Regions from separate parts of the Homo sapiens genome. Here region 2 is linked to region 1. Evidence: fine-mapped expression QTL. Tissue or cell type: tibial nerve. Region 1 holds a variant in brackets; the other region holds the start of a gene. All regions are shown on one strand. Distances are from middle to middle.

Region 1 (5,213 bases):
GATCTTGGCAAATTGTTTTTGAAAATATAAAGTTCACTCTATCTTAGAATACAAGCTAAAGTCAAGTCCACACACTCCAAAGAGTCAAGTGTAAAAGAAAAGCCATCAAAAGCACAACATGAGGGAATATTTTTCTGCTCTCAGGGTGCAAAGTGAGAGCATCTTCATAATGAAACAAAGAAAAATTGGAAAGGAAACTCAGAACATTGATGAATGAAAATTATGCTCCAAAATACCAAAACAAACTTTAAAATGCACAGTGTTAATATTCTTCCTTCATGAAGTTTATAAGGGTGTCTGCCCAATAGAAGCAAAGGCCCAAAGCCAGGAACAGGACCAGGGCATAGCACTATGGCATGTGAAGAAGAGCTCAGCACAGAGGAGGGCAGGACAGGGCTAGAAAACGTCACGTGCACTCACTACAGTGCCACATATACCTCAGGTTCTCATCAGTGACACCAAGTATCAGCCACATGCAAAGACTTTTGTGGGACCAGATGAACTGGGAGCTGAAGACAGTCCCTTCAGCACCATCATTACTCACTTCAAGCATACATGTTATAATATATTGCCCTGGAGCTGGTTGAGCTCTTGCAGCCCAGAAATTAGACCCAGAATCCACATTGCACATCAGACCCTACATCCATGTGAGACCCCAAATCCACATCCACAGCCACAACCACACTCCATGTCCATGCCCACATACACAGTCACACCCATGCCCCATGTCCACACCCTCACCTGGCCCCTGGCTGCTCCAGGCTGTGCCCTCACTGCAGCATCTGGAGCAGATGAAGGCACAGGACAGGCTACACCAACCTGACCTGATTCTGCCACCATCCCAGCAGGGCCCTTGCACACACATGGCCCATCACACACACCTGCCTGTCAGGCCTTTATGGGTTGGTGCTGACCCTCAGGCAGAAGGTCAGAGGTCAGACCACCAAACTCAGAGTAGAACAGACAGACAGACTCGGGGCTCAGTTAGCAGGGCCAGCACTCCCTGGAACATGCCTGTTCTGGGGACAAGACTTGGCGTGAGGGGCTAGAGACACCAGGATCCTCACAGGGCCTTTGGACAGGAGCCCCCTGAAGGATTCACTCTCCAGGCTGGAGGTCAGAAGTCCAAATGGGTCTCACCGGGCTAAAATCAAGGTGTGGGCAAGGGCAGCTCCCTCTGGAAGCTCTAGGGAGAATTTGTTCCCACCTCCTCCAGTTCCTAGAGGCCATCTGCACTCCCTGGCTCCCGGCCCCTTCCATGTTCAAAGCCAGTGATGGCCAGCCGAGCTCTCACAGACGTTGCCCTGACTCAACCCTCCTCCCCTCCTAAGGACCACTGTGATGACGCTGCAGCTGCTGGGTCATCCAGGACAGTCTCCCCATCCACAGCTGGCTGAACAGCCCCAACTCCATCCACAGCTTCCCTTCCTCCCCTCTTGCAATGCTACTTAAAGTTGCAGGATTAGGACATGGGTGACAGCGGGGGCTGTTATTCTGCCGACCGAGCTAAGAAACACACCTCAGGGTGACCTCAGGCTCGGTGTATGGACAGGCTGGCTGGGCCTTGACCAGACCCCAAGCCCAAACTGAAGCCCACATGAGGCCCCAGCAGTGCCTGTGAATGTAAGGAAGTCCTAGTCTCCTCAAACTCCATCCCTCTGGCCACCCAGGCCTCACCCCTCCCTGTGATATAGCAGGGACAAGGTGACAACAGCCATGGTGAGCCAGTGACTCAGCACAGGAAGGACAAGCCATGGCTAGGAGCTGCACCCACAGCTTGGACCACCTTGGTGCATGGAAAGGCCCCCAAATGCCCCAGGTGGTTGGGCACGTCCCCAATGAACAACATCCTTTTAATAGTCCAGGGGTTGGTGCACCACAGGAGCTGAAGGGCTCTCCAGACCTCGGCTCTAAGGGTGCAGAGGGAACTGCCCTGTCCAAAGGCCACATGGGAGTTAGAGCTGCAGTCAGTCAACAAGGATGGAAATCAACATGTCCTTAAAATACACCTCCCCACCAAGAATCAGGCTCCTCAGCTCTGGATATTGGCACGGGGTCCTGGATCCTGGGGGCAGACAGCACAAGCCTACTTTACAGGGGGGAAGGCCGAGGCTCAGGGGTCACAAGAACGTGCACGGCCAGCACAAGGACTCAGAGGCACAAAGGTCAGGTGGGGATCCAGTCCTCACACCTGGCCCCGCCCTCCATAACGTGCCCACCTGTGTGGCTCCAGGCTCTGGGCCAGTGTCCACTTTAGGACGCTCTGCCCTGGCACAGCCAATCCACTTGCACAAGGAGGGGCCCCTTGTGGGCTTCCTCCTTCCAGCACCACCCACCCCTGGGCCATCTGCTGGGAGGATGAACTGGGTGGCACAGGTGAAAGGCCTCACCTTGGCCAGGACAGCTGCCTTGGTCAGTCATTTACTGCTTTGTGCAGGAGACCCCAAGAGACTGAGAGAAAAGAGAGGTGGTCATGGTGGAAGGGTCCTTCTGCCGCCCAAAAGAAGCTCAGAGAACCAAAGGCCTCAGCACCCCCTCACCACCTAGGTGCCTGGGCCAGAGGCAGGGGCTGCATCCAGGGCCCGCCCACCAGGGTTGTGGGGGGTGACCACTGGGCTGCCCCTCCTGCCCCTCCAAGGCTGAAGGAAGTAGACCCTCCACAGGGATCCAGGCCAGATCCCCTGCTAGCACCGACCCTACATCTGCATTGCTGCTCCAACCCCTGCTGCCTGTGCCACCAACCCCGACAGTGGCCACTTGGCAGGTGAAACTAAGTCTCAGGGCATTCAGCCTGGCTCTGCCACTAGCTGTGGCTATATGCCAAGGAGACAGCACCTAACGAGGATCCAGGGCTTCGATTGTGCAAGCTCCAGCACAGTGAGCTCCATTAGGGGCCATCCTGTTCTCACAGAAGAGACTGTTTGCCGACACTGGGCATTTATTTTATTGTACCAGAATTAGGGCTTTCTAAATGCCCCCTAAGAAATTATTCAGAAAATTGGCAAAACGAAAAATAAGAGGAGAATAATAACTACAGAAAAATGGAAAATATTTTCCTCACACTAAAGCCAGGAG[C/T]ATAAGATACTGAGAATCTGAAGGAGACTAGGTAACACCAAAACAGTTACAGCATCCCAAGGCCATGTTAGCAGATGACTTCATTATTTCAGAGACAAAAACAAGCACAAGCTTCTCATTAACAAAAAACCAACCTCAACCCCTCACTAATGCAGAGTGGGCAATTCCCAGATATCCACGTGCTTGTGGCCTGTGTCCACTCTGCCCTCTGCAGGAAGCCCATCGTGGGCCACCTGAGAGGCAAGCAGCCACATCTTGCTGACTTCAAAGGTTGTCGCCCATGGGGACAGTGCTGGCTCACAGGAGCTGAGCTCACAAAGGATCCCCCAGCCAGGCCCACTCGTCCACCTATGTCCTGCAGACAGGCCCTCGTGCCTCACCTGCTGCCCCTGCCCCAGCGTGGGGATGCATCCCAGGACACAGACAGAGGCTCCATGAGGACCCAGATGTGGGGAAGTGGGTGAGGACGGTCCTCACAGAACCAGGGCCCCAGACTCAGACCTTTCAGAAGACAGAAGGTGGGCCTCTCCCTCCTGGGAACAGGAGCTGGAGCCCTCTGCAGGCCGCTGGCCACCTAGCCTTGTACACTCCCAGGCTGGGCCCTGCAGGTCTGTCCCGGGAGCCCACCCACATCTGCAGAAAGAGCAGGTCACAGGCTGCTTGTGGTCAGGTGAGCCAGGACTGCAGAGTCCGAGGGAGAGCAGGGCATTTGGCTGAGCTGAAGCCCAGGGACGCCTTCTAAGGCTGTGCTAAGCAGGGCTTCTGCTTCTCCAAAAACTCAGGGCAGACCAGACCAGGAGAAAACCCAGGAGCTGAGAGAGGCGGTGCCTGGCCACACACAGACCTCAGAGGCCACCAGGGGCACAAATGTCACCCCAGGACCTTAGTATTAAACAGAACATCAACAAAAAGGCAAAGTTGGCCGGCCCCTTTCCCTTTTTAACCCTGGCTAAGAGCAGCACCCCCTGAGTTTCTTCCTGCGACAACAGAAGCTTGTTGGCCGAAGTGCAAACTTCAGGGGCCGCAACAGGCCCACCAGGGCTGGGTAGCAGGCATAGAGCACGGGCCACGGGGTGCCACCAGCAGGTATGGAGCACGGGCTACCGGAAGCCACCAGCAGGCATGGCACACAGGCCACCAGGAACCACCAGCAGGCGTGGAGCACAGGCCACCAGGGGCTACCAGCAGGCGTGGAGCACAGGCCACTGGGGGCCATCTGAGCACCAGCCTGGTGAAGGCCCGCATCCACCACCCCACGAGTCGCCTTCTTGGCCTCCACCCTCCACCCTGAGGACACTTGGAATGCTCAGCCTCGTACAGGCAAGGTCAGCGGAGCAAAGTGCCAGCCCAGGATGCCAGCCCAGGACGCCGAATCAGGCCCTCTGAGCAAGTCCTCCTCGGCCAGTGAGGATCAAGTCGCCTGGTCCCTAAGAGATGGGCTCCAACGAGAGCAGTGTTTCCACCCACTCACAGGCCCAAGGGTCTGTGTCTCAGCTTGTGACCTCCCAGGAGCCAGGAGATGGCTGGGCAGGGGTCTCGTAAAGGCACACTGAGGGAAAGGGTAGGGCAAGGACCAAGGACAGACCCAGGCCTCAGAGCTACAAAGGAGAAGCGGAGAACATCCGCCTGAGCCAGTGAGGCCTGGGGGTGATCCACCTCTGCACAGGCAAGCGAGGTCTGCAGACCCCCAGTGTACCACATGGTGGGCAAGGACAGGCAGCTGCCTGTGAGCAGCTGGAAGAGGATCAGACCCACAGGGAAGTGAACAAGCACTAGAGTGAGGCCTGGGACCTGGCTTAGCACACATACAAACTCACACACCACACATGCAGACGCACATACACACACACACAAACATATGCAAACACAGAGACACACGAACACCACACACAGGCACACACACACACCACACACATCACACATGCAGACACCCTCATACACAGAAATACACAGATACAAACACAAACACATGCAGACACACAAACACAGGCATACACACACACATACACACAGGTGTGCAAGCGCAGAGTGCTGTGTGACCAGGATGCTATTAATATTACAATTTTTAAAAATAAAGTAGATCTTTACATACTGACATGGTAAGACACCAAAAATATATTGTTAAGTGAAGAACATCA
Region 2 (5,213 bases), 45 kb after region 1:
CTCAGGCCAGCTCTCAGCCCCTGTCGCCTGCCTGCCCCTCATTCCTGGAGTTTTTCCCTTGGCCTCGAAGTCTAGTTCAGAACTAGCCTTCCCTTCCCAGAGGGTCCCCTAAGCAGCGAGACAAAGGTCTTCTCGCGTTCTCTCACTCTCCCTACTCTGGGCCCCGAGTGTGGGCAGCAGCCAGGAGCTGACACAGGTGCCCAGAAGGTTCTGTAGCAGAGTGACTGCGCTCGCCAGGTCAGGGCTCCGGTGGAGATGGGGGAGAAGGCAGAGGCCCCACCACTTTCAGGGCTTTTCAGGGCCAGCAGCTCAGCATCCCTGGATATGAGGAGCCTTAGAGGCTCTCACTCACTTTGGCCCGGCCATGAACTTCTCAACGGCTGCCAGTTGAGGGTGTGCATGTCAGCCCTGTTCTGGGCAGAGCCCGGTGTTCACACTCAGTCTCCCTTGCTCTAAGGGGCTTCCACAGCCCTGGGCATACCCAGGAAGGCAGCCCAGATTTCCGTGGGCATCCCCACCCCACAGAGTCCCAGGCCCTTCTAACAGCAGGGAGGTAGGACTCAGGACTGGGGCTGACAGACATAGCAGGCCCTGTCACATCCCAGCCACCCAGGTCCCCACATGTAAACTGGCAGGACTGGACTTGGGGCCACAGCCCACTCTTAAGCACCACTGACCAGTCTTGAAGACCCAGTCTTAGAACCTGCAGGAGGATCTCCTCTCTGGAAGGAGAATCCCGGACCACCCACCACCACACACCCCTCTCTTTCCCCCGGCTGCTTGCTGCCGGTGGTTTGGGACTGGAGCCCCAGAGGGCATACAGCCCTGGCCAGCCCCGGGTCCAAACACATCCCACAGGCAAAGTCAGATGCAAGAGAACCTGTTGGAGCAGTTTGGGCAACACTGTCACCTCCTCTTCCTCCTCCTCCATTTACTTCTTGGTGGGAAGGGACCTGCCCTAGGCATGGGGCCAGGTCATGGCCATCGGCAAGGGCCAAGAGGGCGGGGGTTTTCAGTGTCTCCAAGCGTTACCTCCTTCCCCCCTCCCCATCTTCCTTAGGGAGCATAAGATCATGTCAAAACCGGCGTTCCTGCCGGGAACGGAGAGGAGAGAAACGGGGAAAACTGAAGGCCAGGGAGGAGGTGGCAAAGCCACAACAAACCCCCCTTACCCAACTCACAGACACTATTCTGTCACCGCACTCCTGCCCGCGGACCTGCAGGCCTGCCGGGTCTAGCTGCTCCGCGGGGGTCCGGGAGGGGTCCTGCCCTCGGGGACAAGGTCCAAGGGAGCTCGCCGGCCACGGCGGAGGGTGGGCGCGCCGGCTGCCACCTCGCCGGAGCCCCCACGGACTCCCCAGCCCTGCCGGAGTCGGAGCCCGCCACTCGCGCCTCTCCCGGGACCCGCGCCGGGCTGCGCGCCCGCTTCTCCCGGCCCGGCCAACCCCGAGCCCGCGCGGGGAAAGTTCCTGCAACTTCGCAGGGGGGAGGCGGCGGGGGCTCCGGGCCTCGGCCTCCCTCCGGATGCCCGGCCTCTGCGGCCGCCGCGACCCAGCTGACAGGCGGCCCGGCCCGGGCCTGGAGCCCCAACTTCCCCGCGCCCCGAGCCCCGAGCCCACCTCCCGGCCCGCGGGCCTCGCTTTGTGCGCGGCGGCCAGGGGCGCCCAGCGCGGGCCCCGTGCTTGGCGCCCCCGCCCTGGGCACAAAAGGGCGCGCGGCCCGGCACGGCCCAGCCCCGACCGGGGCGCCCGGAATGCGGCGGCGGCGGCGGCGGCCCGTCCCCGAGCCGGGCCTGCGGGCGCGCAGCCGGGGGCGCGGGGCTCGGTCGGGCAAGGTGGCCGGGCCGGGCCGGGCCGAGCCGAGCAGCCGCCGCGCGCTCACCTGCCGTGGAACCAGTCCTTGCAGGCGTCGCACTCGATCATGAAGCGGGTAACGTCGTAGGGGAGCCGGCAGACGCAGTACACGGGCACCGTCGCCATGTTGCCGCGCCGCGCCGCCGCTCGGCCCCGCCGCTGCGCTGCCCGGGTCGGTCCGGGCCGGGCCGGGGGCCGGGCCGCGCGGGGGCGGCGGGGGCGGCGGGGCGCAGGCGGCGCCGCGGCCGGGAGGGGACGGGGACGGGGGCGCACGACAGCCCCCGCGCGCGCTCCCGGCCAGGCGCGTCCACACAATGCCGGGCGCGCTGGCTGGAGGGGCCGCGCCGGGAGCCGCCCGCCGGCCCGCGGGGCTCAGGGCGCTAGTGTGCGCGGGGGACGGGCCGCGCGCGGGACACAAAAGGGAATGGACGCGCGGGGGCGGCGGGCGGGGAGCCGCGGCCCCACCGAAGGGACCCCCGGCCGCCGAGCGGCCTCTACGTCAGCGCCCCGGGTGGCGCCGCCTCCGCCCGCCGGCCTGGGCCGCCGCTCCCGCCGCCGGGAAGGCGGGCTGGGGAACCCTGCGGGGGAGAAGGTGGGTTGGGGGACCCTGCCGGGGGAGAAGACGGCCGGGGGGACCCTGCCGGGGGAGAAGGCGGGTGGGGGGATCTCGAAGGTGGAAGATAGGCCGAGAAGGGCCCCCAAGGCTGAAGGTAGACCCAGGGGTCCGCGGGCGCGAAGGTGAGCTGGGGGAGCCTTGAGACTGAAAGTGGGGTGGGACCCCGGGGAGAAGGTGGGCGGGACCCCGAGGATAAGATAAGTTGGGGGAACCCGGGCAAGGCAGAAGGAGAGACGCGGGGTGCGGGAGTGGAGCCCGCAGGAGAGCCTTCCTAGTCTAGAAGGCCGACAAGCAAATACTTGGCCCTAACTTTCTTCTGACCCCCACCACGGTGGGGGTGTTCCTCCTCCTCGGCCGCGCTGCCTCCCTCCGTTCCCCACTGAGTTTCTGGTTGGGACACCACTTCCTCTTTCCCCTCATTTTCGGCTGGGGACTGCCGCCTCCCTCGCAGGATCCCGCGGACTTCCCTGATGCTCAGCCCCAGAGGAAGAGGACAGAAGCCCGGGCCGGGAGTGCGCTGGCACGGGCTGGTCAGCTCTGTTCCCTGGCATTTGAGCCCCCCAGGCCCGTGACCTAAGGGGCCGGGCTGGTCAGCTCTGTCAAGAGAGAGCTCCCTGGCATTTGAGCCCCCCAGGCCCGTGACCTAAGGGGCGAGGAGTATGGGAACCCTGGCCCCCGTGTCCAGGGAACTGAGCCCCCACGGTGGGGAGGAGAAGCGGAGGTGCGCTCTGAGGGGTCACTTGCACGCGTTCTAGAGGAGGACTTCCCTGCCTCGCCAGCGCTGCATCCTTGGGGCATCCGCGCTGGGCAGGGGCCACATCCCTGCCCGCCCTTCCTCCCTCACCCTCTTTCTCTCCCCATCCTCCCTCAGCAAAATCCGCATCGTGCTGGGAAATGTGGGCCACCCCTGCTCGGAATTCCAGAATCTCCGGACAGGAAACCTGGCTCAGTCTCCTAGCAGCATCCATGACAAGGCTCCTTAGCCCCTCAGCCCCTCACCATCACCGCCCACCTGCAGCTGCCAAGGGGCCGTTTGCTCCACCGCAGGCGGCTCAATTAAGGTCCTTCCTCCTACTGAGCCAAAATCTACCCTCAGAGTCAGCCACCCACCCCCAACAAGTGACCCCGTGGATACAGACTCAGGGCAGTGCCCAAAGCACTGGGCACTGGGGAAGGGGGCGGGGGGAGAAGTAGCTGGCCATAGAGGGAGAGGAAAGAGCAGGAGACCCCCAGCTCCCACACCTCTGGACTGGCCAGGATGGCCTGCAATAGGCCTTCCTACCTGAATTCCGGTTGTCACTGGTTCCCTTCCTCCTGGGTGAAAGCCTGGAATTTTTTTTTTTTTTTTTTTTTTACATACTGAAGTTCTGGGAAAGAAGTAACTCTTAAGCCATTGTCTACTATTATGTAGATAGAATGCTCAGCCTGAAGGTTGAGAGCCCAAAAGGCGGGTTTCAGGTGAGTGGTGCCCACTTCCTTGATAGATACACTCTCCCTCACCCTTACAGCAGTACTAAAGTAGTCAGGTGAGCAGTGCCCAAATGAAGCTGGAAACTTCTAGAGGCTGCTGTGATGCAGGGGAGGCTGCCCTGATGTGGGCATCCCCCCATCCCTTAACACTCCTATTAGCCTGTTTACAAACAGTGACAGTAGTTAGCCAACATTTAGCAAATGCTTTTACCAGGACAGTGCCCTGGGCTCAGTTCTTCACGAGGTTTTACCAGTACCTAACCAGATGTTTGTAAGCGCTTAGCAAATTCCTGGGTCATGATGGCAATTACTACATACTCAGGACTCTCCTTTGGTGCCTTTAGGTATTGGTATTAGTGCCATTTCACAGAAGTGAAAACTGAGGCGCTAAGCAATTAAACATCCAGCCAGACAGAGGATGTCAGCTCCCTGGTGAGAGGGCAGAGGGTGGGAGCCAGTGAGGAGCCCTCAGCTGGTCTCCAAGTCTTGGGCCTGTGCTCCCTGCCCCGCAGCCACCGCACAGAATGTGTCTGGAGAAGCTCGGCCTCCCTGCTAGTCGTTCGGGGTGTCCACCCCACCCACCTCCCAGCCCTGCCCTTCAGATGGTCTCCTGTGCCCACCAGATACATTCCTTTTGTTCAAAGCCCTTCCATGGCTGCCTGCCATCTATGGGATAAAACAAGTGTCATCAGAAGCCCACAAGCTCCCTCTGTTTGGCTTCTCCCTATGGCTTCCCCTTTCTTTTTGTTTTTTCTTTTTCTTTTTTTTTTTTTTTTTTTGAAATGGAGTTTCACTCTTGTTGCCCAGGCTGGAGTGCAGTGGCACGATCTCGGCTCACTGCAACCTCCGCCTCCCGGGTTCAAGTGATTCTCCTGCCTCAGCCTCCCGAGTAGCTGGGATTACAGGCATGTGCCACCACAGCTGGCTAATTTTGTATTTTTAGTAGAGAAGGGGTTTCTCCATGTTGGTCAGGCTGGTCTCAAACTCCTGACCTCAGGTGATCCGCCCGCCTCCACCTCACAAAGTGCTGGGATTTCAGGCGTGAGCCACTGTGCCCAGCTGACTTCCCCTTTCTTTTTTCCATCTCCTTCAGGACATGCACCTCCCCACTCCTCCCTCCTTCCCTCCTTCTCTCTCACTCCTCTACTGAGGTATTTATTGAGCATCTACTGTGTCCTGAGCAGTGTTGTAGACACTGGGGACTCAGCAGAGTCTCAGCTCTGTTGGAGTTCACATTGGAATAAAGGGAGACAGTCAATACATACATCAATGCA

What was found.
Region 2: PHF2 starts here. The variant in region 1 is fine-mapped to the expression of PHF2 in tibial nerve (GTEx, PIP 0.98).

Annotation. Positions count from the first base shown.
Region 1 is chr9:93,618,605-93,623,817 of GRCh38, reverse strand. The region is part of intron 1 of PHF2 (PHD finger protein 2); the gene reads right to left. Among named protein-coding and RNA genes, the nearest start is that of MIR548AU, 26 kb to the right of the region's middle. The variant C/T (reference allele first, on the strand shown) is at 3,076.
Region 2 is chr9:93,573,540-93,578,752 of GRCh38, reverse strand. PHF2 (PHD finger protein 2) reads right to left here and starts at 2,169. Exons shown (of 22, transcript NM_005392.4): 1 at 1,882-2,169. The coding sequence starts at 1,979. RefSeq lists enhancers at 380-529, 2,711-2,990, 2,672-3,266, 3,267-3,862 and silencers at 1,391-1,550, 2,141-2,440, 2,551-2,610.